Linked DNA regions of Homo sapiens. The protein of the gene in region 4 interacts with the protein of the main gene of each other region in a biochemical or structural test. Each region holds a gene or a part of one and is shown on either strand. Other genes may lie near its edges.

Region 1 (3,839 bases), on a different chromosome or scaffold from region 4:
CTTCAAGGCCCTGCTGCCTGTCAGAGTCTGTCCTCTGCATGAGGGGGGCCACTGGACCCCGTGGAGTGGCCTCCACACAGCTGGCAGACGCAGAGCCAGGTCACATTCTGTCCTGCAGCTGAGCTTCCCATGGGGAGTTGCAGCCCCATGGCCAGCAGGTCCTCTCTACCTCTGTGACCTGGCACTGGGAGTCCAGGGACCCCAGTGTGGGTCAGGCGTTCCTCGGCCGTGCCCAGCCCTGTGATTTCATACCCCCCGAGCTGAGCCACTGCACCCTCCTCTTGCAGTGGGACCTGGTGTGCAGCTCCCAGGGCTTGAAGCCCCTAAGCCAGTCCATCTTCATGTCCGGGATCCTGGTGGGCTCCTTTATCTGGGGCCTCCTCTCCTACCGGTGAGTGCCTCCGCTCCTCCCAGCCCCCAGCTCCCTCAAAACATTGTTGAAGACTATGGGGCAGAAGGTTCAGAAATGTCAGGCAAACACCCCATCCCTGCTTCCGTCTCCCTCCTGCCTCCTCTGTTTCTTCCCTCCCCTGGCCATCCGAACCAACCCACAGGCTGTTCCGGGTCCCCATCTCAGCAAGGCCCCCCAGACCCTGGCCTGGTTCCCCTCACAGGGAGGCCACCCCAGGCCATCCCCCACCGCCCCCATTTCCTCTCCCATACTCCTGCCAGATGGTCATAGGCCTCCTCCATGCGGCCGTGCTTGGACCCTGTGCCTCAAAGTTGTCCTGGCTCCCCATCCTCCTCTCCTCTGTCCTTTGTCCCCCAGTCTCAAGGCCTTTCCAGAAGCCTCACGTGGGCCAAACACTAGCCAGGTGCAAGGGATGCCTCAGCAGAAATGGGGGAAGGGGCGGTGGGGAGGGTGGGAGACAAGTGTCTGCTCTTCCCCAGCTTGGAGCCAAGCAGGGCTCAGGACACAGGTAAGTAAGTCAGGCCACCTTGGAACGTGAGGCCGGTTAGGGGAACAGGGCACAGGTGATGGGCACGCCAGGGCCAGCCGGCAGGACTGGAAACGTCTCGTACCAGGTGACACTGAAGCCTAGGCCTGCTGGCGGGGAGAAGCGTTCTCTGTGACACACTTTCTTCTCTTGGCTTCCAGAACATCCTCACTCCTGGTTTTCCTTCCACCTCCCAGGAAGCTGTTCTTGCTCCCCCTCCTCCCGCTCCCCCTCCTGCCTCTCTTCCTGTTCTGGGAGCTGAGCTGCTGATTCCTTGCCACGCCCCCTCACTCCCCCAGCAGCCTCCATCGGAGGACACAGACCCCCAACCTGTGGGACCCTTCTGCGCCTGCGCTGTCCCCTGGCCTCCCTTCCTCACCCCCACACTCACCTGGCTCTTCCTCCAGGACACACTCAGCCCAAGCCCCTCTCTGCCACAGCATCCCCTTGCCTGAGCCACCATCTCCTCTCACCAGGCAGGCTGCAACCCCTCGCAGGTGTCCTCTGCAGTGGCCGTCCACGCTGCCACAGCACTGAGTGACTTTGCAAAATCTCGGAGGTTGATCTGGTCAATAAAAGCTGGCCCAAAGTCCTCCGAGGGCCCCACTGCACTGAGGACAGTCCCTTCCTGCCTACCCCCTGCCCTGCGCTGGGCTTCCATCCACCCCCAGCTCCACCAGCCTCCTCCTGGGGCCCCCTGCACGCCTGCAGAGCGCCTCAGTGACTGTGCTTCACCCAGAAGCTCTTGCCTATGCTGCTTTGTGCCCACACGCAGGCCGCAACTCAATGCTCTTCCTTGAGGAGGCCCTCCGAGGCCACGGAGCCAGAGACTCCTGCCCGGCCCCAGGCATGACTGTCCCAGCCCCTCCTTGCTTCCCTCATCACAGTGCCTGGCTCTGACGATGCCTGGCTGGCTCAAGGCTTGTTTGTTGTCCACGTCCCCACAAGCACACAGGGACCCAGGGACTGTGCTCCAGAGCCCAGCTCAGCACGGTGGCAGACACGCAGTCATTATTTCATGAATGGAGGACTGCCTTCCCACTCCCTCCTGCCACCACCCTACTGGCTCTGGGGTCTGACTACCTGGGTCTGAATCCCAGCCTTATCCCACCCAGCCTTGTCCTACAAGGTAGATCTCTTCCCTTCTCTGGAGATCTCTTCCCTTCTCTGGGCCTCAGTTTCCCCCCAGCAGTGGGGTCTCGCACCTGCCCACGCAGTTGTCGTGAGGATGAAGCGAGTGTCCTTGCTCCTGGGTGCTGCTCAGACAGGTGCGGCCAAGGTCTGCCTCGCATCTCCGTTCTGAGCAGAACGGGCTTGAGTGGCACTAAATGCAATCTCCGGTTCAGACTCAGCCGGCCTGGAGGCCACCGCAGCCCAGGGCACTCGGGCAGGGGCCGAGGGCTCTGCATCCGCCCCATGAGCACCCCCTTCACAGCGCACAGGTGAGAGCAGTGGATTGCAAAGTCTCGGCCTCCTTACTCCCTGGCCCCTTGCCCAGTGTCTTGATTCTCATAGCAGCCCTGTGAGGCATGTCCTTATGGATGCCCTTGTGTTACAGATGGGGAAACTGAGGCTCAGAGATGTCGAATCACATGCCCAGGGTCACCCAGGAAGGACAGAGCTGGGGCTCAAACCCAGGCATCTGATGCCCAAACCTGTGTTCTTTTTTATTTATTTATTAGAGACAGAGGCTCATTCTGTTGAACAGCCTGCAGTGCAGAGGCGTGATCATACCTCACTGCAGCCTTGAACTCCTGGGCTCAAGCCATCCTCCCACCTCAGCCTCCCAAGTAGCTGGGACCGCAGACACCTGGCTAATTTATTTATTTATTTATTTATTTATTTATTTATTTATTTATTTATTTAGTAGAGACTGAGGTCTCACTATGTTGCCCAGGCTGGTCTTGAACTCCTGGCCTAAAGTGATCCTCCAGCCTCAGTCTCCCAAAGTGCTGGGATTACAGGCATGAACCACCGTGCCTGGCCCCAAACCCCATGTTCTTAAACACTGAAACTGAACTGCACCCTCCCATGGCAAGGTACCTGCCACTTTTATAACAGAAGCACTCTGAGTGTACCCCTAAAAGTTCCAAGAAGGAGGAGCTGGCTGCAAGAGATCCCCTGGCGTTGTTGAACTCCCAGAAGGCAAGTACCTGCCCACATATCCACGTCCTCAGGGGCCCCTCTCCAGGCCCCGTGTGCTTCTCTCCTGTGACAGGTTTGGGAGGAAGCCGATGCTGAGCTGGTGCTGCCTGCAGTTGGCCGTGGCGGGCACCAGCACCATCTTCGCCCCAACATTCGTCATCTACTGCGGCCTGCGGTTCGTGGCCGCTTTTGGGATGGCCGGCATCTTTCTGAGTTCACTGACACTGAGTGAGTCCCCGGCTCAGCGCGCTCCTGCCATGGGGGCGGGGGTGGCAGGAGAGAATGGGGCTCAGGCCGCCGCATGAGGCCTCACCTGCACGTGTCTGCATCCTTCAGTGGTGGAGTGGACCACGACCAGCAGGAGGGCGGTCACCATGACGGTGGTGGGATGTGCCTTCAGCGCAGGCCAGGCGGCGCTGGGCGGCCTGGCCTTTGCCCTGCGGGACTGGAGGACTCTCCAGCTGGCAGCATCAGTGCCCTTCTTTGCCATCTCCCTGATATCCTGGTCAGTATGATGTGGGACCTTTTCCTTAGGAGACCCAGGGTGGGAGGGGGACTCTTCACTTTCACCTCTCTGGCTGGCAGTAGGTCCAGAGACCTGGAGTGCCACAGAAGGGCCATGGCATGAGCGGCACCCTCGCTAGGGAGGGACATTGGTGATTGGCAGTCCTGGGCTAAGTGTTGCAGCCCGAGGTCCGTGGCTCCCATCCAGCCCAGACAGGCCAAGATGGGCTGGCACAGCATTGGCTCAAATGG
Region 2 (4,621 bases), on a different chromosome or scaffold from region 4:
CAATTTCAAAGAATCTCACAGAGCAGCAGAAAGCTTTGGGGCCAGCAAACAGAAAGATGGTTCTCCTTCAGGTAATCAGTATCCAGAACTGGGATACTGATGGCAGATGGGAGTGTTATTATTTAACACATGGACTTTGAACAACTGCTGACCTAGGGGTTTCAATCACTAAAAGGGCTCCTCTTTCAGAAAATGCCAGAAATTGCCCAGCATGAAACAGGACAGTACAAACATTCTGCAACACACAGAAGAGGACCAGCAGAATCTGGACTTTTGAAAAAGAAAAAATCTAACTGAATAACAACATCAAAGTCTCCTGGGCAAAGGGGTTAAAGATTTACAACATTTCTTTAGAGGAAAAAAATAACTGGTTGAATTTACAGAGCATCTGCTATGTGCCAAACATTTAATGAGCACTTTAAAAGCATGATAAAAATTAAAAAAAAACTTGTTAAGCATGAAATAAATTACCTATAATGCAAAATCACTGATTTTAGTGCTTGGATATTTTTAAGTAATTAGTAGATTACCTTCAAAGAGTTCTAAGTTAAAAGTATTAGGGGCCAGGCACGACGGCTCACGCCTGTCATTCCAACACTTGGGAGGCCAAGGCACAAGGATTGCTTGTGGCAGGAAGTTTGATATCAACCTGGGCAACACAGCAAGACCCTGTCTCTACCAATTAGCTGGGTACAGTGTTGCATACCTGTAATCCCAGCTACTTGGGGCTGAAGTGGAAGGATCCCTTGAGCTCAGGAGTTCAAGTCTGCACTGAGCTATAATTGCACCATAGCACTCCAGCCTGGGTGACAGTGTGAGATCCTGTCTCTCTATGTTTTTTTTTTAATGTTTCTGGATATTGCTATAACCAAGTGGATGAACCAGAACCTACAGTAATTGCAGGAAGAGCCATGAGAGAAGCCACACCTTCCAGAGGACATGCCTCAATAAAATGTACCTCTTTCTGAGTATGCTGAATGTCAAACAGATGTACTGTTTAGAGAGGAGTGTGGAGGAGACAGGGTGAGGGAAGGAGGGAAAGCAAGGAAGGAGGGAGAAGGAAGAAGGGAAAGAGAAGGAAGAAAGAAAGAAAAAAGGAAGAAAAGGAGGAAGAAAGGAAGGAAGGGAATTAAGAGTAAAAATTTAATATGGCATTTATGGGGCATTTAGAAAGCCACAACATTCCTGTGAGAACAGCATTGTATACTCAGAGCCATCCTTAATAGAGAAATCTTGAGAGCACTTATGGCAGGCAAGCTCTACCTCCTGGGCAGGGAGAGAGACTAAGGGTGTCTGCTTATTATGCCATGAAATTACTGGCAGATTCCCAGTTTCTGGTCCACTGGATGATTTTGACCCACACACCTTCCCTGAAGCTTTAAGGAAAAGGTAACAGTAAAGTTAAAAATTAAGCTTTTAACTTCGACACAGTGATGTCAAAAGATTTGGTGAATGATTTATGGGGCTAAACTTGGTAATCCTAGAAAGTCAATATTGTGTAAAGTTGAGAGAAAAGTCTTCACAGCGGAAGAAGAAATCACTTTTTTGTCCCGAATCAGGTTAGTCTACGGGGCTCATTAAATGAAATGAGCAATCAGTTGATTCCCCAGAGGGCCGTAAGGGGGCATTCCCTGGCAAAGATATTATTGAAAGTACTTAGCAATAGGGGAAAATGTGGGGAGGGGTGGAATATGCCCTATCTTCTGAGGCTTTTCACAAGAGAAAAAAGAACATATTTTTAGCAATCAGTGTGAGGTTCACAGGGACACAAGGAAAGAGAAGTATGTGTTGTACAGTGTGTGATGCTTGTATAGCTGTGGTGTGCTGTGTCTGTAATGTGTGTGGCACACTGTGTACGCCTGGTGCATCTGTGCCCATCATTTATGTGTGTGTGTGGTTATGTGTGTGGTGTTTGTAGTTTGTACTTCCGTTTTGAGGATGCAGTATTGTAACGTATTTATATGTTTGGTTTGCTATGTGTCTGGAGTGTATGTGTGGAGAACATAAGGGGAGTTTGTACCATGTGTTTATGTTGTATGTATGTATGTGGTGCATACGTATGGGTGGTTTGTGTGTGCATTTGGTGTGTATGTATATATGTATTGAAATAAACAGCAGCCCCAGAAGAGGTTCCAATGTGTGATAATGATGGTTGACAAATTGCTTATTCAAAAATATTTTGCAAATCCAATCTCAGGACTTTGGTATCTTTGGGGCACTAGGTATCATATAATCTGATATGGTAAAATCCTGAGGTCTAACCTGACCAGCACATATTGGTGCTGAATTCTGATGGTAAGGGGTTGCCTGATAGGAGACTGCTCCATTCTGATTCTCCACTGAGCTTCCTGCCATAAAGCTTTGCATCAGTGGCTGCTCTATCCACGGAAACTGAAGATACGGACAGGGGCATGTGGACGTGTAACGAATGATTAGCCTCTGCTTGAGTTGATCTTATCAATAAGCAGATAGTATCTTCCAGCTCTATTAAGATACAGGGGGAAAAAAGGAATTTGTTTTACCTTTGCTTACTCCTTTTCTGACATTCTTCCTTTCTTTTCATACTGCCGAGTTTCTGACCTATAGCAATCTCCTTCTGCCTGAAAGGCTTCTTTTAGTGTTCCTTACAGGGCAGGTCTACTGGCAATGAATTCTTTCCATTTCTCACTTTGGAGGAATATTATCACGGATTTAGAATTCTGGATTGGCAGGGTTATTTGTTTGTTCTCTGTAGTTTTCAGGTCTTCCATATATTTTTAATCAACCAAAACAATCACAAAAGTAAAATAAATATCAAGGGAAGCACATAATGGAGGTGAATGGGCACTGCTGTGATGGAGCAAGTTATCCTTGGAAGCGGTTTTAAATCAGAGAGGAGTACTGGGTAGTGTTTGGTCAGTTGCCTCTCTACATTATGCTGACATCAACGTGTTTTGCACTCACAGTGGGTGGAGGCAAAACCCTTCAGCAAGAAGAGAAGCAACTTCAGCCGTGTATGCAAATGGATAACCGGTTGCCTCCCAAAAAAGGTAGCACTTTATTCTGTTCCATTAAACAGGTGTTCTTTTTCTTAAATATTACATCACAGATTCCATGTGGAAGAATATTTTTGTGATATACATATGGGGTCTTAAAAATGTTCAGAAAAGAAGGTAGAAGAAACCAGTCCTACTATGGTTTTCCACCAGAAAAGCCCTAAATAAAAAGATTCTACATACTCTGGTGGCTTACACTTTATTTTCATTTTTGCGCACTTGTCAGTTTATCATTTAGTGGAAAATATCAGAAAAAACTGGGCTATTTTGGTTCCATCTCCAAGAGAAAGAGAGATAGATCTGTAAGTGGAAGTAAGGCAGGATGAATGTTCTTGAGTCCCTGCATTCTTGGACATCAACAGCTGAATGTGTACTGAATATTTTTTGAGAGAAGCTGTTTATTTTAGGCAGGGTAGTGTAATGACAATAAAGGATTACTGCTATTGGTTTAGCGTTGTGTCAATGTCATAGGGGACAAAATCCCAGAAAAGGAGATGAGCGATAGATTGTATACTTTTTCAACTTATGAAAAAGTTACTGTATATTAAATTATGTATTTCTTCTTGTATCAACTTTGATACTTAATTATTTTGATTGTTTAAGTTGTCCATTTAATCTGCATTCAAAGTTTATATATATATGTTTTTTTCTATATATTATTCATTTCTGCCCTTATGCATTTAATTCCTTTTAGACTTTTTGGGTTTGTTCCTTTGCTCAGTTTCCAAGTGTTTAAATTCTTTCTTTTTTGATAAATATATTTACAGATGCACATTTTACTCTGTCCATGAGTTTGATATGCGGTATTCTTATTACTCAATCCCAAACACTTTAGAATTCCCCCTGTGGTCTTCTTTTTAACTTAAAACTTGTTTAGACATAATTCATGGACTTCCTGGAGCAATGTGGAGGAGAGAAATGAGTAAAACTCAAAAGCATACCCCTAAATGACTAAGACAATGAGCCCTTCTCTGACATGGTGACAATGACTTCCCTTTTACCATGTAGAGACTCCTGCAGGTGTGTTTACAAAGTTTCTGATAGCTTTCTAGATCCATTCACTTCCCTATGATACTGAGTTTAGGCAGCAAATCAAAGGAAGGGCTGGCTGATGATTAAATTTCTCAGGGGTATTCTTTTACCCCCTTCTATTCAGCTCTTAAGTTCATATGGCACAAAATTTCTTGGCAGTCCACTGACAAGATAAGGGGGCAATGTGTTCATCCTCCATTGAACCATGTAAATCTTTGACATCCAAGCATTTTAGGAGAGGGTCTCCTACTATACACTATCGCATCGCTAGGACCTTGGTATTTGATTCCTGTTGTCCCCATATCATGGAAGGCCAAAAATCCCAAGATCAAAAGTCCACAGTGAAACATCTGACTTCAAGGCCCAACTTATGTTTTGAGGCCCCCATCTTCACTAAGCCCTTGGCCTGAATATTTCATCTTTCCTCTTAGATCACCCATGCTTTTAAAAAAATGGTTTATTTTAAGCATATTTTATCTAATATTCTTATCTTTTAACAACGGAAGCTCAGTTGGCCAGAAAACTAGCCAACTATTTGTTGGGTACTAATGCTT
Region 3 (3,839 bases), on a different chromosome or scaffold from region 4:
CCTGAAGACTTCACCCCCCAGGGTCTATGTCCTTATCTGCCAACTCAGCCTGAGGAGACCTGAGATGGGGGTCCAGCCCCAGGGTCCCCCCAGGATGGGGTGCCGGGGCAGGGTTAGCACCTCGATGTTCAGAGGGCAAGAACTTATTGCTGTCCTTGTCAGCTTGGGCCGAAACAGGCCTTGGGGTGGGTGGGTTCAGGACCAGGAGGAAGGCACCCTGGTGTGCTGGCCAGCATGAGCTGAGGCAGAGCTGCTGTGTGTGGAGACCTGCACTCCAGGGGTGACTGAGCAGCAGGCCTGCCCACCAATGTCCCTCCTTGCCCCAGGAGCAGAGCCCAGGCAGCCAGGCCTCACTGGCCACGATGCCGGAGGCACCTGATGTGCTGGAGGAGACCGTGACGGTGGAGGAGGACCCCGGCACACCCACTTCCCATGTGTCTATTGTCACATCCGAAGATGGCACAACCCGGCGCACCGAGACCAAGGTATGGCCAGGCCCAGGCAGTGGGTGGGTGAGCAGGGCCAGGCTGCTGCAGCTGTCCCACCTGCAGAGTGGACATGGAAGCTTGCCACGTGGGGCCTCTCATTGCTCGAGTGGGAAATTAAGGCCAGCCAGACCCCAGCAAAGCAGTTTCTAGGCCTCTCGTGCTACCCCACCTACCTGCCTATCCATCCACCAGGTCACCAAGACTGTCAAGACGGTGACCACTCGGACAGTACGCCAGGTGCCCGTGGGCCCAGATGGACTCCCCCTGCTGGATGGCGGCCCCCCACTAGGCCCTTTTGCAGATGGTGCCCTGGACCGGCATTTCCTGCTGCGTGGTGGTGGCCCAGTGGCCACACTCTCTCGAGCCTACCTCAGCAGTGGGGGTGGCTTTCCCGAAGGCCCCGAGCCCCGGGACAGCCCCAGCTATGGCAGCCTGTCCCGAGGGCTGGGCATGCGGCCCCCACGTGCTGGCCCCCTTGGCCCAGGCCCTGGTGATGGCTGCTTCACACTGCCTGGCCACCGGGAAGCCTTCCCGGTGGGTCCTGAGCCTGGGCCACCAGGTGGCCGCTCCCTGCCCGAGCGCTTCCAGGCAGAGCCGTATGGCTTGGAGGATGACACGCGCAGCCTGGCCGCTGATGACGAGGGTGGCCCTGAGCTGGAGCCTGACTATGGCACGGCCACAAGGAGGAGGCCTGAGTGTGGGCGGGGCCTTCATACCAGGTGAGCTGCACCCCGTCCCCTGTGGCTACCTCCTCTGGGAAGTCTGCCCTCCACCCCCCAACTACAGAGTGCCCCACTTGTCAAGTGGCGCAGTTGAGTTAGTCATGCATGTTAGTTTGAATTGGCCTTGGCTCTCGTCAGGGACAGAAGAAAGGTGGACCCTGGGGTGGTAGGAGTTCGGCTGGGCACTGTCCTGCAGGCCCAGGGCCCAGGAAAGCTGGGAAGAGTGCCGGCCACTGGCCTTGCTCCAGCCACACTCTGGGTAACCAGAACCCAGAGCCCTGGCCCTTGTCACAGCCCCTGGTTCTGTCCCCATTGCCCTCAGTTTCTGCATCTCTGGAGTGGGGATGTGACCACAGCCCGGGTCAGGATTTTGTTGTGTGACCCTGGCCAAGTCACCTGACCGTCACTCCTAGCCTCAGGGCAGGCGGTTTGATGACAGCAACCCACAGGGCTACTGAGAGCTAAGGAGATCTTGTGCCCCAAGGGGCTGGTGGCCTGAATACTCCTCAGGTGGTCCTACTGGGATGGCTTCATGCGGAGAGGGCCATTTACTCCCCCTACATCCTGGCACAGCCAGAGATGGGCCTCATGGAAGATGGGGTGGTTTTGTGGAAGGGAGGTGAGACGGTCTCTCCAGCAGCCATAGCAGATGTCTCACAGAAACTTGTTTTGCTCGGGATTGGGAAACTGCCCGGTGACAGCAGTGAGTGAGTTTGCTGTCCTGGGAGGGTTGCCTGGGTCCTGGTAGCCGCTGGCTGGGGTTTGGCATTTGGCTCTGAATTGGTTCTCACTGGGCTGGTGCATGACTCTCTGTGTCCCCACCATGCTCCGGGCCAAGATACAGGTGCTCTCAGCCCAGCGCTGCTGGGTGAGTTTGCAGTCCTGAAGAAGGTGTGATGGGGCAGCTCAGAGGCAGGGCTGGCGGCTGCTGTGACGATGTCCACGCGCCCCACTTGCCTGTGCAGGGCCTACGAGGACACAGCAGATGATGGCGGCGAGCTGGCGGACGAGCGGCCTGCGTTCCCAATGGTGACGGCGCCCCTGGCCCAGCCTGAACGGGGCAGCATGGGCAGCCTGGACCGGCTGGTGCGGCGCTCGCCCTCAGTGGATAGCGCCCGCAAGGAGCCGCGCTGGCGGGACCCTGAGCTGCCTGAGGTGCTGGCCATGCTGCGGCACCCCGTGGACCCCGTGAAGGCCAATGCGGCCGCCTACCTGCAGCATCTGTGCTTTGAGAACGAGGGTGTCAAGCGGCGTGTACGGCAGTTGCGGGGGCTGCCGCTGCTTGTGGCACTGCTGGACCACCCGCGGGCTGAGGTGCGGCGCCGGGCCTGTGGGGCACTGCGCAACCTCTCCTATGGCCGCGACACTGACAACAAGGCCGCCATCCGGGACTGCGGTGGTGTGCCTGCCCTGGTGCGCCTGCTGAGGGCTGCCCGGGACAACGAGGTCCGTGAGCTTGTCACTGGTGAGTGGGACCTGGCCATGCTCACATCCCCTGGGAAGAGAAGAGTGTGAGGCTCAACCCGGGAGGAACGAGGCCACTCGGCCTGCGACCGCCTGGGAAAGCACCCGGTAGGCAGGAGTGCAGCTGCTGAGACGCTTGCCCCAGGAGCCAGGCATCAGGCCCAGACACTGTGACAGGTTCCCCAGTCTCTACCATAGCAGGGAGGCTGACGCTGCGCCCCTCGGGCATGTCCCCTCACCTCCTGCCTTCACACCTCCTGCCCCCACAGAAACTCTCCTGGGACCCACCTCCTTGGTTCCCACCCCAACCGTGCAGTGGTGGGGCTTGTGCCTTGTGAGAGCTGAGGGACAGGTAGGGTCACCGTGTCTCTGTGAGGCCCTGTGGCCTCAGGAGTGTTAGTGCCACCTGCCACATGGCAGGGAATGGGTGGGACGGGACAGCACTGCCACACCCTCCTCTGCACCTCCTCCCCTTTGGGGCTCCTTCCTAGCTGGAAACCAGTACTGGGTGTCCCCCGGAACCACTCACGGCTTTTGTTACTTCCTACTGTTCTGCATGAGCTGGGACATGAGGAGAGTGGGACAGGTCCTGAGCGTGGCCACCTGGGGAGGTAGGCAGGCGGTGCATATGGTCAGCACAGATTGGCCAATCGCACCCCACAGGCACCCTGTGGAACCTGTCATCCTATGAGCCCCTGAAGATGGTCATCATTGACCATGGCCTGCAGACGCTGACCCACGAGGTGATCGTGCCCCACTCAGGATGGGAGCGTGAGCCCAACGAGGACTCCAAGCCACGGGACGCCGAGTGGACAACTGTCTTCAAGAACACGTCGGGCTGCCTGAGGTGTGGACCAGACCTGGTGCTAAAGCCCACATGCACACCAGGCCCCGTCCTCGTGGTCCCAGATAGTGTGGAAGATGGCGGCGAGCTTAGGAGCGCCAGAGCTTAGGAGCTTCAGAGCTGTGGCACAAGTCCTGTGGATGAGAAGTGGGGCCTGATGGAGCTGTCCTCACCCCCAAGTGGTGTCCCAGTCTTCCCAGGGGCACCCTCTGGAGGGGTCTCTGTGGTACCGTAGCCCTGCCCAGCTCTCACCTACCTTCCCATCACTTGACAGCCAGAGGGGGAGCTGGGACCTTCCTGTTCATCTGCCTGGGAGGCTCA
Region 4 (3,839 bases):
TAAGTACCTACTATGTGCCAGACACTGACATTTTTGCACTTAGAATTCTGGGCTGGGACAATTTATAGGTGTAAAAAGCATTTTTAAAATGAATATATTATTGAACAATAAATATTTTTTCTTTAGGTCAGATGTAATTTTAAAAGATGTATAAAACATGTATTTCTAGACAAGTCCTTGGATCACTCCACATAGACACTGATCCACAGTATTATAGTAGAATATATTTCAGGTAAACTTAGCACTTCTCTGACTTGGGAATTGAGTCATTTTCTTATTAATGTTTCAAGCCACTGTTTCAATCATTTTGCCTTATCAGGTACCTACCAATGTAGAACAAGAGCAAGAAAATAACCTTTACCCAAAAGGCCCATGCCTGCCATTATGAGAGGAACTTTGGTTCATGAAAACACCAAGCACCGTCAAAAGCATTCCGTTTCCCATCTAATATTGAAATCTAAAGAAGCAATGCCGTTCTTTTCTTCCTCCAGAATGAGAGTCTACCAATTACCCAACCTTAGAGCCAAATCCCAAAATAACATTTTGTGAGGTTTCCAGAGACATCTGACAAAAGGGTTTTCTGGAGTGGGTAAATCTAGGCTTCTTGGCACCTACCTTCACAGCTGTTTACCTGGGACAGCCCTGGTTTCTCAGCTAGGGGCTACCATACCTCAGGGGAAGGGAGTATGTTCTCAGAGAAGGGGAGATATTTTCATGGCTCCCACAGACTTTGTTCTTTTTCTCTTGTCATGATTGTGTGATTACTTTTCCTTGAGACAGTTTGGCCTCATATGCAGAGAATCACTTTCTCTGGTGATATGGGATGTGACTCTGCTGCTTGCTCAGGTGCTGCCATTTTGAGCTCCGAGATCTGAACTTTCGTGCTCCACTGGCAATGGCATTTTTCTTTCACAAGCTTCACTCTGCCTACCAATGCCAACATCAGCCAATTAATATTTACTGACATTCCACAGGGAGCACGGCTCTGGGCACCTTTCATTGTTTTGCTGCCACCCACCCTCTCTCTCTGTCTTTTCTCTACTGGCTCAAAGCTCATGTCGGAAACCTTTGCCTTCACTTTAGTATAGACTTCAACATTTTTCATCATAGCTGGCCTACGTGTCATTTTATTTTCTACTTATCTTCACTTTCTCTCTCTTCCCAAATACACATATGGCCTAAAATAGAATTAACTCTCCCTGTCCCTTTCCCACTAACAAACTATAAGCAGCCCCGTTGACCTTCATCCCAATGGGGTGTCTAAGTGAGACATCTGTGGCTGGCAGGGAACTGCTCCCTGCTGTGCATTCTACTTTCTTTCTCTCTCCCTCTCTTCTTCCTGATTTCTCCTCCCAACCTCAGTATCTTTTCTCCTTTTCTGCTGTCTGGGCATGTATGGGTATTGCTCTCTCCACTGGCACTGAGCAAGATTAAAAGGCTGGGTTGTGATCACACTCACTCTCATTTTTTCAGTCATTGTTCCTTACACTTACCCCAATCATGGAATCATTATGCTTGAAAGGGAAGGTCAGACATTCGTCTAGGACTTGTTTCCAGAGAGAACTGAAACTCAACCATCTCAGACAACCAGTAATCTTATTCTCAATTCTCTCTGACAAGAACAATCTCACAGTTTGTCTGATAAACTTTTAATGGATTACTCAGGTGACGTCTAAATCCCTTTAAACTCTGACACTCATCCTGTGTTTAAAAGTTCTTCTATTTAGAAACTCATTTCCTAAGTGTAATCTTAATTAAAGAAACACATTTAAATGTTTTGTCTTAATGGAAGAGGAAAAATATTTCCCATCTTTTCTCATCTGCAGAATCTTTTAATCCAAGGAATTCTGAATCCATCACAGAGTTCAGTATCAGTGTTCCAAACCTGATGGCTCCTTTGCTGGTGGCCTTGGATTTTCTGTTCTGGTCACTTTGCTCTTTCCCATCTGTCTGTGTCTAGCCTTGTGGTTCCTTCAGCAGTCTTCTCTAATGATTCCTCATCCACTCTGTGATATGATTCAGAACTGATCATCATCTGGGTTGAGAATGCTCTCTCTCTCTGTGCTGGACCTCATTTCTCCTGTCTCCCCATCCTCATCCATTCTGCTAACCCTCGCTGGCCTTCTCTGTCAGATCCTGCCATCTGGAACAACTTAACTGTATCCTCCACCTCGTTAACTTTCCACCCCTTTCCAAATCTCACCTGCAACCATGTCCTTTCTGCTTTGCCTCCACCCCTTCATTTCATGCCATCAAAGCTAGTGCATTTAACGTATTTATCTTTCTAGCCTATCAACTTTTTAAAATAATATGCACTTAATAGATATTTCACAAAGTAAGTCTGTCTTGTTTTATTGGAGTTTCATCTATTGCTAGGGCATGGGGCATATTTCTCTTGCAAATAGAGAGACCCCACTTGAACAGGAGAATGCTGCAGCTGGGTCCCAGGCAGGTCTTGTTCTCGCGCAAGTGCTGCTCGTGGTCCAGATTGTGATGGATTTCTTGCTGTGCTTCTAGCCCATGCTTTGAGGGAGTTTACATTGAACAGTGGCTTGGACCGCTTTACTCTCCACTGGACTGAAGCTTTTCGTTTATATAACTAGTTAGAATTATCATAATGGCGCATTTATTTCTCCCCTGTCTTCCAAATGGGAATTGGATGCTAGAAATACTTTACCTCGTTCCAGGAGGTACCCATCCTCCAGAGGAAATTTTGGCTATGCCTTGTATGACCCCATATAAACAAGAAGGAGTCTACACCCTTCTTATATGATTGTAGCAGGTTAGGAAGAAATATCTGGTTCATTACTGGGAAAAGGAGGGCCAATGTAGGATAGGCATTCTAATCGATTAACTTATATACTTTTGGGAAATGTTTAGGAGGAAGAATGGAAATAAGGATAGCTAACATTTATTGAGCACTTACTTTCTGCCAGGTACTATTCTAAACATTTTACATGTACTAACTCATTTAAATCTTGCAATATTATCGTCATTATCCCCACCATACAGATGAAAAAGAAGAGGTTCAGAGAAGTTAAGAATCATTCCTAAGATCACAAGTGGAGGACAGGAGGAACCCCAGTGTTTCATTTTTGCCATTTTTTTTCTCTTCTAGAAACGGATAGAAACCATAGACCTGCCTATCTAGAATAATAAAGAGAAATTAATCAAGACAACACCACACTAATCTCTCAGCATTCCTTATGGTAGGGGAAATAGAATAGACTTAGAAATTAGAAGATATGTCAACCTTTCCTAGCTTTCCTATTTTTACTTGTGTGGCAAAAACAAACAAACAAAAAAACTGAATTTCCCCCACTAAATTTCAGTTTCTTAATCTGTAAATTAAAAATTACTTGTGAAAACTGTTTTATACTCATGTTAGCTATAACAAAATGATTTAATTTTCTACTACAGTTGATTTATTTGAAATTCTTATATTAGTAAATTCACTTTATTCTGGCGGAAAATATATAATTTGATAACTTCCCACTATTTGAGAGGAGGCAAAATACATAGTTTCTAGGGATAGGCAAGCCGTCAGTGTTTGAAACTCATCTTTTTCTCTCTTTTAGTTTCTTACCACTTTTTTGCCCATATACATGAGAATTATGTTAAATTTAAAATTAGTAACTGCTGCTTTATTAAATATACAGAAGAAAATCTTATTTGCAGATTTTTAAAATAATTATTTGTTTCAGTATCGCATATATCCAAAAAAAAAATGCACCCAGATATTTATTACATGTAGCTCCTTAAAGGATGTTACTGCACCCTTCAAACCAAGGAAACTTTGACCTTGCCATTACAAAAAGCAATAAAAGCAGTGGTCTTGG
Region 5 (4,368 bases), on a different chromosome or scaffold from region 4:
GGGCAGTGGATAAGGAGTCTACCCAGGCCTTTTTGGGTTCCCTCCTTTGGTCCCTGGGGACCCAGGGCTGTGGCACTTGCCCCGGGCTAGAGGGTCGGCCAGGGCCTGTGTGGTGCCCACTGCTCCCTCCCCTGCACTGCAGGGGACCCTTGCCCATCCCTCTAGCTCATCTGGACCTCCCTCAATGGCTCCTGCTGTCTTTCCAGGCTGTGTCCTCCCGTGTCAGGGACACATCCCAGAGCCCAGGGCCTGCGTGGGCTGTATCCACGGTTACTGAATAGGGACAAACAGGCATGTATTGGCAGGGGCCGGTGGCTCATTTCAGGAAAGTCCCTTCAGCAAGAGGATTCTCTCCCCACTGGGGCTGAGGGTGGTAGAAGAAAGGAATGTTGTTCTATGTTGTAGTGTCTCTGAGATGACCTGGCTTCCTGAACCAGGTCCCCCTGAAGAGCTCCTCCTGTCCACCCCAACAAGAGGCCAGCTGGAGAGCAAGCAAACATCGAGTGCAGCAGGAGACTATAAGGTTAGACAACAAGAAGGACTTCCTGGCAGGGGAGAGCAATGCTTGCTTGGTTAGAGCTGCCTTTCAGTAGAATGGGCTGCTTTGGATTGCAGTGAGGTCGCTGGAGTTGCAAACAGCAGAGCCAGAGATCAAGGTCAAGTGGAAGAAAGCTGGGAAAGGTTCAGTTTGGCTGGTGAAGGGTGGAGAGGGTAAAGGGAGGCAGGGACCACCGTGGTGCAGGGGTGAGGTGCCCTGCAGGGAGCTGATCCTGAGGCCGATGGTGGGAGGAGCTGTGTGTGGTCGGGTGGGACGGGGTGGGGACAGCAGGAGACACTGAGAAGGTGGCATGGCCAGGAGCTAGGGGCTGACCGAGTGTGGGGAGGGGGGAGTGGGGAGGGGGCGTTGGGCTGCCCGATGGGAGGTGCCTTGGCTCCGATGGGAGCACTGGGGAGCAGCAGGTGGGGGGACGAGCTGGGTGGGAGGGGCTGCAGCTTCCCAGCAGAGACAGGGTCTGGGAGGCGACTGGACTCGAAGGCCTGGGCTTGGGAGAGAGGCCCGGGCTGGAGAGGTGGGGAGGGGGATCCAGGAGAGGGGATAACTAAGGACTTGGGAGTAGCTGGCATCACCTGGTGAGACGAGAGTCCTGAACAGCCCCCTCTCCAAGGACAGAAATTTCTCCAAGGAGGCTGACCTGAGAGGTGGGAGGAGAGTGGGGCAGAGGGTCAGGAGGGAGAAACCAGTGGGTGCCAAGACCAGGTCAGCCCCACAGGCTAGGGGGCTTGAGGACTTGGGGCTGATGTCTAGGGACGTCCACGAGGTGGAGCAGCCCAGGAGGCCTGGGTGGGAGGAGGAGGCGGTGGCGGGGAGGGGAGGGAGGGGCTGGGCCTCTGTCCACAGCATTAGTGCTGGTTGGAGGGACGAGGGGGGTGCGGAGCCAGCCAGGCCGCCCTCCCGTTCTCACAGCAGCCGAGCAGAGCGCAGAGCGGGCTGCCATGGCGCTGGCCAGGCCTGGGACCCCGGACCCCCAGGCCCTGGCCTCTGTCCTGCTACTGCTGCTCTGGGCCCCTGCCCTTTCCCTCCTGGCTGGTGAGTTGGGGCCCATGTCTGGAGGGGCCTGGGAGAGGGTCTGTCCCCCAAGACAGATACCCCAAGCCTTGGCTGCTGGGGTGGTGGGTGGGCTGGTCCGCGTGGGTGCAGGCCTGAGCTGTGGGGTGCACAGGAGTGCGCGGCTGTGGCCCCCAGACTCTGTGGGGCTCCACGGAGGTGAGTGTGTTCTGAGGCTCGGGGCTGTTTCATGTTGAGGGGGGTTGTAAGTTTCGGGGTTGGGGGATCGGGGGCTGGGCATGATTTGGGGGAGCTGATGCGGGTGAGGGATGGGGTGCGTGTTTTGGGAGGTGCTGTGTTGCATCCTGTAAAGGGCTGGGGGACTTCTGGGTTTCTAGGGGCTGAGTTTGGGGAGTTGCAGGTGGCATAAGCCTCACCCCAGAGCTTGTTCTGTGTCGCATGCTGGGTTGTGGGGCACAGGTTGTGGGTGTGTTAGAGTTGGGAGGTGGATGAGCTGTCTGGGGTGAGCCGTGAGTTGTGTCCGAGGAGTTGGGTGTGGTGAGCTGTGTCCTAGCACACGCTGTGGGGTGTAGGTTGTCCAGGGTTGAACTAGGTCTTTGCTCTCAACATGAGGGGTGTGGGATGTGCACAGCCGACCCCAACTCGGGACTGAGTGGAGAAGCGTGAGGGAGACTCAGGGAGCTGGGTGCCTGCCCGCACCCCTCCATTTGTGCGGTAGCCCTGCCTGTGCTGAGGGCTGCTGGGGATGCTCTGGGTCCCTGTGGGGTGGCTGGGGATTTGGGAACATGTGTGTGTCCCCTGCTGCCCCCTCCCCAGCATTCCAAGGCCAATCTGAAAGGGCTCCCTGAAGCCAGACCACATTTGCCAAGCCCTTTTTGCTTTTGTCCAAGCTCTCGGAGCCTGGAATTCCTCCTGGGGGGTCCAAGGGAACGCTTGGTGTTAGTTACTATAGTTACAGGGGCCGGGCCTGGGAAGTCCCCTGCCCCCACCACCACAGGCTGGGGAGGGAGCCAAGGAGGGCCTGGGCTCTCCTGAGGCTGGGGGAGCCCTCCCTGCCCCAGAGCTCCACAGGCTGTAGGGTGTGGGGGCCAAGTGTCTCCCAGTCCCACCTGGGGACCCTCATGTTTCCCGCACTCACAAAGCTTTCATTTCCTATCCTCTCTATGGGGCCCTAGGGAGGATGAGGACCCCATTTTGCAGTGAAGGAAACCAAGGCTCAGAGAGGGACGGGGACTTATGAGCTGGGCTCTGCTGGCAGGCGACTTGGGCTCCATAGAGGGGTGGGGCATGGTGGCGGGGGGCGGGGTGGCTGCTCCTCTCTGTTCTCTGCATACAAAGCACGTGAGATCCCGGTCTGTGGATCGGTGCTCTGTCCCCTGCCCTGTGATGCTCACACACCCACACTCCGCACACCTGTGTGGCATGCCCAAGGGCACACAGCACCACAGGGACAGGTGCTACAGACACATGTGGATCTACCAGCACATGCACCTACCTACACACATGGCATGTGCCTGCACACCAATGTGCACACCCCAACACGCACATGTGGACATGTGTGCATTCACACTCAGTGTGCACTCACAGGGGACCTGGAGGCACAGAGTGGATGGAGGCTGTGGGGGGTCTGGACACTGGTGTGTACACTCAACCCATCAGGCCTGCTGGGTTGCCCAGGGGCAGCCTTTCCTCTGCCATTTCTGTGCTGGGAGCGCCATCCCTGGGGATCCCTAAAAGTTGGTGGGGTACACTGCAGGCATGACCATTTCTGCATGCTGGTACCCTAGACTGCCTGCCGGGAGGGGAGGGATTGGGGATTTTGTCACTTGAAAACCAATTTCCATCCTGGAGGGGATGGGGGCTTCTGGAGGCCATGGGCCCCTGGCTTTTCTCCCCACCCCTGCCAGGCCCTGAGCTGGGCCTCTCCATCCTGGGCCCAATTTGCCACAAAGGCCCGGCTGGTTGCCATGGAGAGGACCAAGCATCTTGGAGTACAATGGGGCACGTTGGGCTCTCATATCCACCCTCCCTTCCCCAAACACCCAGGGAGCCCAGCAGACAAAGGGGCAGTGAGTCCAGGCCCCAAGTCCGGCCCCTCCTCCAGCCAGAAGGGGGTGGGGGCCTGCAGGACAGAAGCAGAGATGGAGCAGAAAGCCACACACATTCAACCCAATGTCAGGATCCTTTGGACAGTGGGTGTCTGCCTCAAGTAAAGAATTGTTAATGAGTAAGATCAGCCACTCCATGGCAGGCACTGTGCTATTATTAACGAGGTCTAATTTAATTCTCCCAACAGCCTATGAAGTCAGCTCTGATACCCCTAGTTTACAGAGGAGGTAAACGAGGCCCAGAGATGGCCAGTCCCAGAGCCAGGAAGCCCCAGAGCCAGTGCTGGGATTTCACAGTACACTGTGCTACTTGCCTAGGCAAAGTCACGTCTCTTCTCTGTCTCTACAAAACGAGGACAGACTGGCTTACTCCGAGCGCTGGTATAAGGATTGGAAGAGAATGCAGTGAGCGGTTCCCCACCCCAGGTTTTGGCATGGAACCCCCAATTTCAAGGGAAATTTTAGATGGAAGCCCATGAATAGTTAATAGTAAAATTGTTAAAAGTGGCCTGTTTGGGTGGCAGGTGGGGAACCCCACCTGCTCTGTCTCCCCCTCACTTCAGGAGGTAACTCCCTGGAACTGTGCTCTGAGCCCAAACTCTCAAGGGTTGGTCAGTGCCAGGCACAGGGTAGGTGCTCCGTCCCTGACAGCTATTGTTGCAATTACTGTTATCAAAATTATGTCTTTTAACC
Region 6 (3,839 bases), on a different chromosome or scaffold from region 4:
GGCCAAGGGGTGGGTGCTGGGGGCAGACATGTGGAAGGGTGGAATAGTACACCTGCTCTGGGTTCTGCCCCCTCCAATGCTGCTTGGCTGGTCCTGCTACCTTTGTTTGTTTGTTGCAGCCTCAGGTAAAAGTCCTCGAAGCCCCAGCTGAAACCAGCCCTTCATCTTATCCCAGCTCCATGCTAGCTCTTAACCTAGCTCTTGCTTCTCCCCAGTCATCCACCCCATGTCCCCCATCCCGCCCCCTCCCCACCCCACCCACATACACACATCCAGCCTTGGGGTTGAGGGGCCCGACGGGAAGATCAAGGGTAACAACTAGGTTGGCAGTGGCTGCTGAAGCCAGGTGGAGAATTCTGCATGCGGGCCCTGGCTCATGGGGAGAGTTCCATGAACAATTAGCAGTGTCTGCTGTGGGCTTGGCAGGGGGTCTTGATGGCACATGGGCCACATGTTTGCCATCCTGGCCCCTCTGGGTAGGACAGTCTCTGAATGGCAGCCCCTGTGGGGCTGAAAGAGGCTTTTCCTTAAAGTCCATCTCTGCCCCACACAACTGGCGTCATCCTCTCAGAATCGGGGGGTGGCAGCTTGCCATCTCCCTTTTTTTTTTTTTTTAGCTCAGTGAGCCATGATTCTCCCCAGCTTGTGGATTCCTCCCACCCCAACTGCATCCCACCTTACTTCTTGCCGGAACTATCAGTCTCCTCCCTGAGGAGGAGGAGGAGGAGAGGAGGTACAGGCCCCTACTCTGATCCCAGGGTATTTAGTTTTCCTCTACCCTGAGCAGAGGGCAGGCAGGACCTTTCCATTTAAGCTTCTGTTGACCCTAAGGATTGGGCAGCCAGGAGTGGGAGAGAAGTGGACTCTCTCTCCTCCTCCAGGACCCACCGGGAAGGAGGACCCGCTTATCCTCTGGCCTGGTCTCAGCAGCCTGATCCTGGCAGGTCACAGGGCTTCTGGATTAGCTGGTTTTACACCCCAGGGGCATCAGAAATTACCTGGCACCTCACACATGTAGACATAAGGAGCCTTGGCCTCAGAGCCCCTAGGAGCCTGAGCGTCTGTGCCGCCATCCCCTGCCCTTCACGGTGCTCAAAGTCACAAGCTCCCAGAGGGCAGGAGGCACACCTGCAGAACCAGTGTGAGACAATGGGTCCCATTTAGAGGCACTGCCACACGGCCCCAGCGAGCATGGCCCTGAAGTCAGGGCTGCAGAGGGTGCCCAGCGGGTGCCTGAGCAGAAGCAGCCCCTGTTTGAGTTGGTTCTGCAATGAATAGGGAGGGACGTGTTGAGGGACGCCTCTTTTGCAGAGGTGAGAACCCTGTCTATGGTGCCAGGGTGTCTGGGAGCGAAAGGAAACCTCTTTGAGTGGTTTGTCTCACCTGGGCTAATGCTGGGAGCAGCCCAGGTTGCTGTGAGAGGCAGGGACAACCTAGAATCCTTGGGTTCCAGCAAGTTTGGGAAAGAAAAATGGGCCTCAGTGGCCGAGCTGCGTTCATCTCACTGTGTTTGCTCCCCACACAAGGTCAGGTGCCAGAGTATACAGCTGGCCCCTGCTGGGAACCCAGTGTAGAATTCTCACAGTCTCCCTCTGTGCCAAACGCTGTCAGGGGAGGGAATGACAATTCTTGTCATTTTGTCTCCATGCCATACTCCAAAAAGGTCAGATCCTGGGATGTGGAGCTGCCCAGGATTCTCGGTTGGCACAGGAGCTTGAGAGTTGGTGTCCCCTCAGGCAAGGACAGAGGAAGGACTAAGTGACCCCTGGTGAGAGAAAGCTGAGGCTCCAGGCAGCTGGGCTGGGGGAGAGTGAGAGAAACGGGCCTGCCCTCCTCGGCTCCCTGGAGGCCTCTCCAGAATTCGCCAGTGGCCCCCCCGGGGCAGAGGTGAAAGTGGAGTCATAGGTTAGCCCTGAGTCTTAGGCCGCGCGGGCCCCTCGGAGAAGCAGGGATCCGGAGCCCTTCCACCCACTTTAAGGCAGGAGAGAATTGGGAGGTGTGGAAGCAGCCCCTGGAGGCTGCCCTGCAGTGCCTCTGGAGCGACACAAGGGGGCGACAGCTGCCGTTGTGGGAGGCCGGTGGGCGAGGAGCTTCTCCTTCCGCCAGTCCACAGGCCCACGGGGACCCACAGGCACTCGCTGGAAGTTACCTGCAGCTCTAGCTGCCGGGCGGAGCCAATCAGTGCGGCCCAGGGCAGGCTGGGTGGGTGCCTCTAGCCTCCTGGCCCCACCCCTCCCGTCCCCTGAGGCCCAGGCCCAGCCAGGTGGCCTTGACTCAGCCAAGTTCTCGCAGCTAGCCGGGGTCATCTGGGACTCCCGCGCTGGGCTTCCAGGGCCATGTTCATTAAGGCCTCATCACAGGACCCAGGACAGGCTGACCACCTCTCCTCCCTGCCCCCTCTGCCTCCTCCTTGAACAGCCCTCTAAGTCAGCTGCGGGGGCAGTGTGTGCAGGAAGCGGGATCTGCCACACCTGCGGCCAGGTTCTTCCGCTCCCCGAGTTCCTGGGCCACCCCTGAGCGGTGCCAGGCACTCATTCCTTGCTCTTCTTGGCTCTCCTCTGTTCCGTGTCGGGGTCAGCCCCACATCCAGCCTGCAGTGTGGGTTTCAGCACAGGACTTGGCTGGCACTTGGGTCACAGGTGTGGAGGGTAGGCCAAAACTAACCAAATGCCCTGGAAGAGCTATCATTCTGCCATCTTTCCTCTTCACCCCCTGCCTCGCTGAAACACCAGAGACGTGGTTAGGTCGGGAAAGCAGGTTCGAGTGAGACCAAGGGCTCTGTGGCCGCGGAGGGGAGGGAGAGGCTGAAGAGACAGGAGTGGCGTTCCAGCTCCTCTGTCTTTGGTGATTAACAGCTGCCAGAAGCTTGTAAATTCATCAGTTTCATGTGATCTTCATAACATCTTTGTAGTTGGTTTGATTCCCATTTTGCAGATAAGAAAACCAAGGCTCAGAAAGGTCAGGGGCCTGGCCAGGATCCCCCAGCTCACACTGGAGCCCAGCCCAATGATCTTCTCATGACATTGGGCCACTCTACTTAGGAGTACTCTTTTCTTCTATTATTTGCCATCCCTAAACTGGGAAGACCTAAGAAGAGGTTTGAGTGCTCCATGGGGTTTAGTGAAAGGTCTTTGCCTCCGGTGCCAACGGTGTGAGACCCATGAGATAATCTGACCTGGACCCCCAAGGGAGAATGGCCACCAAGATCCCTCAAGTCAGGGGAGCAGGCTGGACTGGGAGAGACCCTTGGTAAAGAGACTGGGGCTGTGAGCCCGTCATCATGTGGCGTCCGGGCTGGGTCTGGCGTGGAGGACAAGTCTGATCTTTTTCCTTGCTTTAAGGGCGCAGGGAGTCTAAAGCCCAATGGACATGCTCAGAGGAGCCCCCATACCACCCAGGGGTCGGTGGCTGGTCTGGGGCAGGGAAGATCGCTTCACTCGTACCCAGTGCCTCATGGTGAGAGGTCTGAGAGGAGAGGGAGGGCCCCAGCATCCTCCTCATCTACACTGAGACCTCCTCCCCTTGCTCCTGGCAGAGCATCAGTTCAGAGCTCCCACGTAGAGGCCTCTCCCCTGCCAGGGATGAGCCCATCTCAGCACATGCCAAAATAGCTGTCTGGGAGCCTGGGCCCGCACCGCCCACACCCCAGCATCTCGCGGGTTAACAGCTTGCCTGTCTCTCCGCCCCCTTCCCCAGCTTGCTGACATTTTACAGAGAGAGGCGGGGGCGGTTGTGAAAGGGGGCAAGCTGGTTCTTGCTCCCCAACCCACACGGACACCCCACTGACACAGCCTGCCACCACCCACCCACCTCTGGAAGGCATCCCCTTGGGGGAGACC
Region 7 (3,839 bases), on a different chromosome or scaffold from region 4:
TTGGGGACTTCCTTAGACTGAGGGACTATTGTAAAGGAAACAGGGCCTGGAGAGGGGACTGAGAGCAGAGGTCAGAGGGCATAGGGAGGAGGTGGCATGGGGTGTATTAGAGGAGGGGCTTCTAGAAAAGAGGGTACAGGGACAAGATGGGCCAAGACTTTTCTCCCTCGGGTCTCCTGAAGCTGGCTGTGAGGGGAGGGTCTCGGAGTACCGCGCCAGTCTTGAAGGGGCAGCATGCCTACCCCCTCCTCAAAACTTCCTGTTAGCCGCCTCCTCCCCATCCCCACCGACACTGACATGCTGGGGATCGGGCAATCTGTGGGACTAGGGCTCCCTCCCACCACTCTTCTCCCACCCGGGTTACCGCCTGCTCTGCACCGCGCAGCGCCAGTCAGGGCTTTAGCCAATCAGCAAGGCGGTCACGGCGGCTGAGCCTTCCCATTGGCTGGTTCCTCAGAGGGCGCTCCTCGACTCCCGCCTTCCCCAGCCCGGCCAGGCTTTGGCTGGGGAGGCGGTAGACGGCGGCGTGTAGGACGCTCCGGGAGTCCCCGGGTCTGGGGGCCGCCATGGCAGGCAGCCCAGGCAGCGGGGTCTCCTTGGAGGGTATATCCCTGGAGTCTTCTGAGGAAGCGGAGCTCCAGAGGGAAGGTAGGGAAGGGCGGGCCAGATGGGGGCGGGGCAGCTGGCCCCTTAGCCTACCTTCCTCCAGCAGAGTCGGGGCATCTGGGGAGGGTGGCCTGGGAGAGGTCATCTGAGGGCACCTTCAGGAGAGCTGTCCTGGGCAGAGGGCACCAACTCCCTTGGCTCAGTCCTCCCCTAGATAACGGAGGGAATCTGGCATACCCTGGCAGGAAGGGAAGGGTCCCTGCCCTGGCCTCTTTCAGAGCCCACTGAGGGCCTCGCAGGTCTCTGACCAATGCCAAGCCCCGGCCTGGGCAAGAGGGGTCTGAAGGGCAAGCTTGCACTTTTTTTTCTGGAGAAGGCAGGGAGCAGGAGGAGGAAGGAGATGGGAGTCCAGGAGTCCCTGAACCATCTCTGCCAGCTCCAGTTCCAGTGCCCCCTCCTCCCCACTCCTGTTCCTTCCTGGAGGAGGGGGGCACTGACAAGAGCATTGAGAGGCGCCAGGGGTGCATCCTCCGCCGTCCTCCGTGGCTTGGGTACTGTTATGCAGATGTAGGCATGGGCGGCATGGTGGCAGAGTAATGATACCCTTCGCCCATCTCTGCCCCCAGCTGGGCACATTCTGCTTCTCGCTTCCTTTCCCCGGAACTTGCCACAGCCTGGAACTCCCACCTCTGTCAGTGAGTGAAGGCAGCCCTCACCTCAGGTCTCGGGGGCATTGTTGCGGCCCAGCTGCAGGTGTTATCGTGTCCTCCATTATGTCCCATTTCGGGCTGAGAGTTTGCTTATCCCTGTGATGACTTGGTGTGACCTCAGCCTTTGGGTCACACCAAGGCCTCCAGTGCCTGTTTCCCTAGCTCCTGCCAGCGTTCCAGGCCTCAGCTTTGACTTCCTATCATCCATGTTAATTTCTCAGTGATTATAGATCATTGTCACTCAGAGCTGAAGGCCTGTAAACATCATCTAGCCCAATCCATCCATTTTACAGGCAGGAAAGACTGAGGCCAGTGAGGGACAGTGACTTGTACAATGTCACACTGAATTAGTGGTGCTTAGACTGGAGGCTGCAGGCCCTGGCTCCTGTGTGGCTGCCTGCTTGACTCTGGGCCTGTACTCACGGACTTGCTCCGAGTACTGTCTGTCTCATCCTTGAGCCTGCCAGGTACAGGTGGCTGAGCCCTGGGCTTCAGCCCATCTAGAGGTTGAGTGAGGAGCTTGTGGTTTTCTTTTCTTTTTCTTTTTTTTTTTTTTGAGACGGAGTCTTGCTCTGTCGCCCAGGATGGAGGGCAATGGCAGGATCTCAGCTTACTGCAACCTCCGCCTCCTGGGTTCAAGCGATTTTCCTGCCTCAGCCTCCCGAGTAGCTGGGATTACAGGCGCCTGCCACTACGCCCAGCTAATTTTTTGTATTTTTAGTAGAGACAGGGTTTCCCTGTGTTGGCCAGGCTGGTCTTGAACTCTTGACCTCAGGCAATCCACCCGCTTCGGCCTCCCAAAGTGCTGGGATTACAGGCGTGAGCCACCGCGCCCGGCCAGAGACAGTCTTGCTCTGCCACCCAGGCTGGAGTGCAGTGGCGTGATCTCAGCTCACTGCAATCTCTGCCTCACAGGTTCAAGCAGTTCTCCTGCCTCAGCCTCCTGAGTAGCTAGAATTACAGACCTACACCACTATGCCTGGCTAATTTTGGTATTTTTAGTAGAGATGGGGTTTTGCCTTGTTGCCCAGGCTGGTCTTGAACTCCTGGCCTCAAGTGATCCACCCAACAGCTTGTGGTTTTCTGGTGCAGGGCAGGATCTGCAACCTGACACCTGCTTCCCTTTCTCCCTTCTCTCCACCTCAGAGTCTCTTCCAGCTGCCTGGAGCCTCCCACCTGCTCAGGCTGGCATTACCTAGGGTGGAGAGAACAGGCCAAGGAAATTGTCCCCTTCCTCCAGGATCCCTGTCCCAGGCATTCAAGGGCCTGGGGTGCCTGTGCTGGGCAGGGAGGGGAATGTTGCCGGGGAGGGGCTGCCTTCTGTGGGACATGGGGGTGGGGAAGTGGCAAGTATTGTGGTGTGTTTTGGTCTTCTGTACCCAGCTGGTACCTGTGTATCTCACTGCCCGTACCTTCCCCCAGCCATGCAGCAAGTCCTGGACAACTTGGGATCCCTCCCCAGTGCCACGGGGGCTGCAGAGCTGGACCTGATCTTCCTTCGAGGCATTATGGAAAGTCCCATAGTAAGATCCCTGGCCAAGGTACAGTGCTCCAGGGAGGTGGGCACAAGGGCACTGTGCTTGGGGAGGCACAGTAGGGGATGGGGTATTAGCTACAGAGGGCTTTGGGAATGGGACATGTGGCACAAGAGGCCCCCCTGAAGGGGATTGTAGAAGAAAATCATGCCCAGGTGATGACCTGAGTGGCTGCAGGTAGAGGGGGCTGCCCCCACACCTGTCTGGTGAGTGCGTGGGTGGATGTTTGTTGACTGCCAGCTTGTGGAGTGTGTGATTGGTGCGGGCTAGCATGCACATGTTGGAGAATCTCTAGAATTCATCTTGCCTGTCCTTCTGCCTTTGGGCGTTTTGTGTGTATGTCTTTCTAAGGTCACCTGCCATGTATCAGGTTGGGGAGAGATTGACTAAAAGAGAAAATTATAGGACAATTTGGTAATGACAGTGATAGAGGTGGATACACTATGCATTTTGGGAGCATAAAGGACAGGTGTCTAACCCAGCCTGGGGTGGGTGAGGAGGGCTTCCTGGAGGAAGGACCACTTGAGCTGAGTGGAAGAATGAGGAAGAGGGGGAGGGCATTCTGGGCCACAGAAGAGCTTGAGCAGAAGCACAGAGGTAAGAAAGAGTCAGGAGTGTGCAGGGGATTGGAAGGGCTGGTGTGAGGCTGAGCCTCAAGTGTAAGACAATGCGAGCTGTGCAAAGGTTGGCAGGTCTGGAGGGCACTGGGGGCTGTATGTGGGTGCTTGGGCATCCTTCTGTGAGTATCAGGGAGGCTTTATGGTTTTTTTTGTTTTGTTTTGTTTTGAGAAGGAGTTTTGCTCTTGTTGCCCAGGCTGGAGTGCAATGGCGTGATCTTGGCTCACTGCAACCTCCACCTCCTGAGTTCAAGTGATTCTTCTGCCTCAGTCTCCCGAGTAGCTGGGATTACAGGCATGTGCCACCACGCCCAGCTAATTTTGTAGTTTTAGTAGAGATGGGGTTTCTCCATGTTGGTCAGGCTGGTCTC

Evidence for each region.
Region 1: the proteins of GRIP1 (region 4) and SLC22A11 interact in a test that uses a peptide from one of them, tested with the Homo sapiens proteins (one large-scale study listed by IntAct).
Region 2: the proteins of GRIP1 (region 4) and SLC17A1 interact in a test that uses a peptide from one of them, tested with the Homo sapiens proteins (one large-scale study listed by IntAct).
Region 3: the proteins of GRIP1 (region 4) and ARVCF interact in a test that uses a peptide from one of them, tested with the Homo sapiens proteins (one large-scale study listed by IntAct).
Region 5: the proteins of GRIP1 (region 4) and CRB2 interact in a test that uses a peptide from one of them, tested with the Homo sapiens proteins (one large-scale study listed by IntAct).
Region 6: the proteins of GRIP1 (region 4) and DGKZ interact in a test that uses a peptide from one of them, tested with the Homo sapiens proteins (one large-scale study listed by IntAct).
Region 7: the proteins of GRIP1 (region 4) and MPP2 interact in a test that uses a peptide from one of them, tested with the Homo sapiens proteins (one large-scale study listed by IntAct).

The regions. Positions count from the first base shown.
Region 1 is NC_000011.10:64,558,848-64,562,686, forward strand, and holds part of SLC22A11 (solute carrier family 22 member 11), read left to right. Parts: intron 1-287; coding exon 288-391; intron 392-3,156; coding exon 3,157-3,311; intron 3,312-3,419; coding exon 3,420-3,588; intron 3,589-3,839. UniProt on the Homo sapiens protein: Antiporter that mediates the transport of conjugated steroids and other specific organic anions at the basal membrane of syncytiotrophoblast and at the apical membrane of proximal tubule epithelial cells, in exchange for anionic compounds.
Region 2 is NC_000006.12:25,828,932-25,833,552, reverse strand, and holds the start of SLC17A1 (sodium-dependent phosphate transport protein 1), read left to right. Parts: upstream 1-1,500; 5' UTR 1,501-1,559; intron 1,560-2,945; 5' UTR 2,946-2,995; coding exon 2,996-3,029; intron 3,030-4,621. UniProt on the Homo sapiens protein: Important for the resorption of phosphate by the kidney. May be involved in actively transporting phosphate into cells via Na(+) cotransport in the renal brush border membrane. Plays a role in urate transport in the kidney.
Region 3 is NC_000022.11:19,978,579-19,982,417, reverse strand, and holds part of ARVCF (splicing regulator ARVCF), read left to right. Parts: intron 1-326; coding exon 327-485; intron 486-680; coding exon 681-1,207; intron 1,208-2,175; coding exon 2,176-2,675; intron 2,676-2,725; exon of another isoform or gene 2,726-3,026; intron 3,027-3,337; coding exon 3,338-3,521; intron 3,522-3,839. UniProt on the Homo sapiens protein: Contributes to the regulation of alternative splicing of pre-mRNAs.
Region 4 is NC_000012.12:66,672,380-66,676,218, reverse strand, and holds part of GRIP1 (glutamate receptor-interacting protein 1), read left to right. Parts: intron 1-3,839. UniProt on the Homo sapiens protein: May play a role as a localized scaffold for the assembly of a multiprotein signaling complex and as mediator of the trafficking of its binding partners at specific subcellular location in neurons.
Region 5 is NC_000009.12:123,354,767-123,359,134, forward strand, and holds the start of CRB2 (protein crumbs homolog 2 precursor), read left to right. Parts: upstream 1-1,430; 5' UTR 1,431-1,494; coding exon 1,495-1,588; intron 1,589-4,368. UniProt on the Homo sapiens protein: Apical polarity protein that plays a central role during the epithelial-to-mesenchymal transition (EMT) at gastrulation, when newly specified mesodermal cells move inside the embryo.
Region 6 is NC_000011.10:46,350,256-46,354,094, forward strand, and holds part of DGKZ (diacylglycerol kinase zeta), read left to right. Parts: intron 1-3,839. UniProt on the Homo sapiens protein: Diacylglycerol kinase that converts diacylglycerol/DAG into phosphatidic acid/phosphatidate/PA and regulates the respective levels of these two bioactive lipids.
Region 7 is NC_000017.11:43,897,280-43,901,118, reverse strand, and holds part of MPP2 (MAGUK p55 subfamily member 2), read left to right. Parts: intron 1-494; exon of another isoform or gene 495-566; coding exon of another isoform or gene 567-648; intron 649-2,738; coding exon 2,739-2,857; intron 2,858-3,839. UniProt on the Homo sapiens protein: Postsynaptic MAGUK scaffold protein that links CADM1 cell adhesion molecules to core components of the postsynaptic density. In CA1 pyramidal neurons, required for synaptic KCNN2-containing channel function and long-term potentiation expression.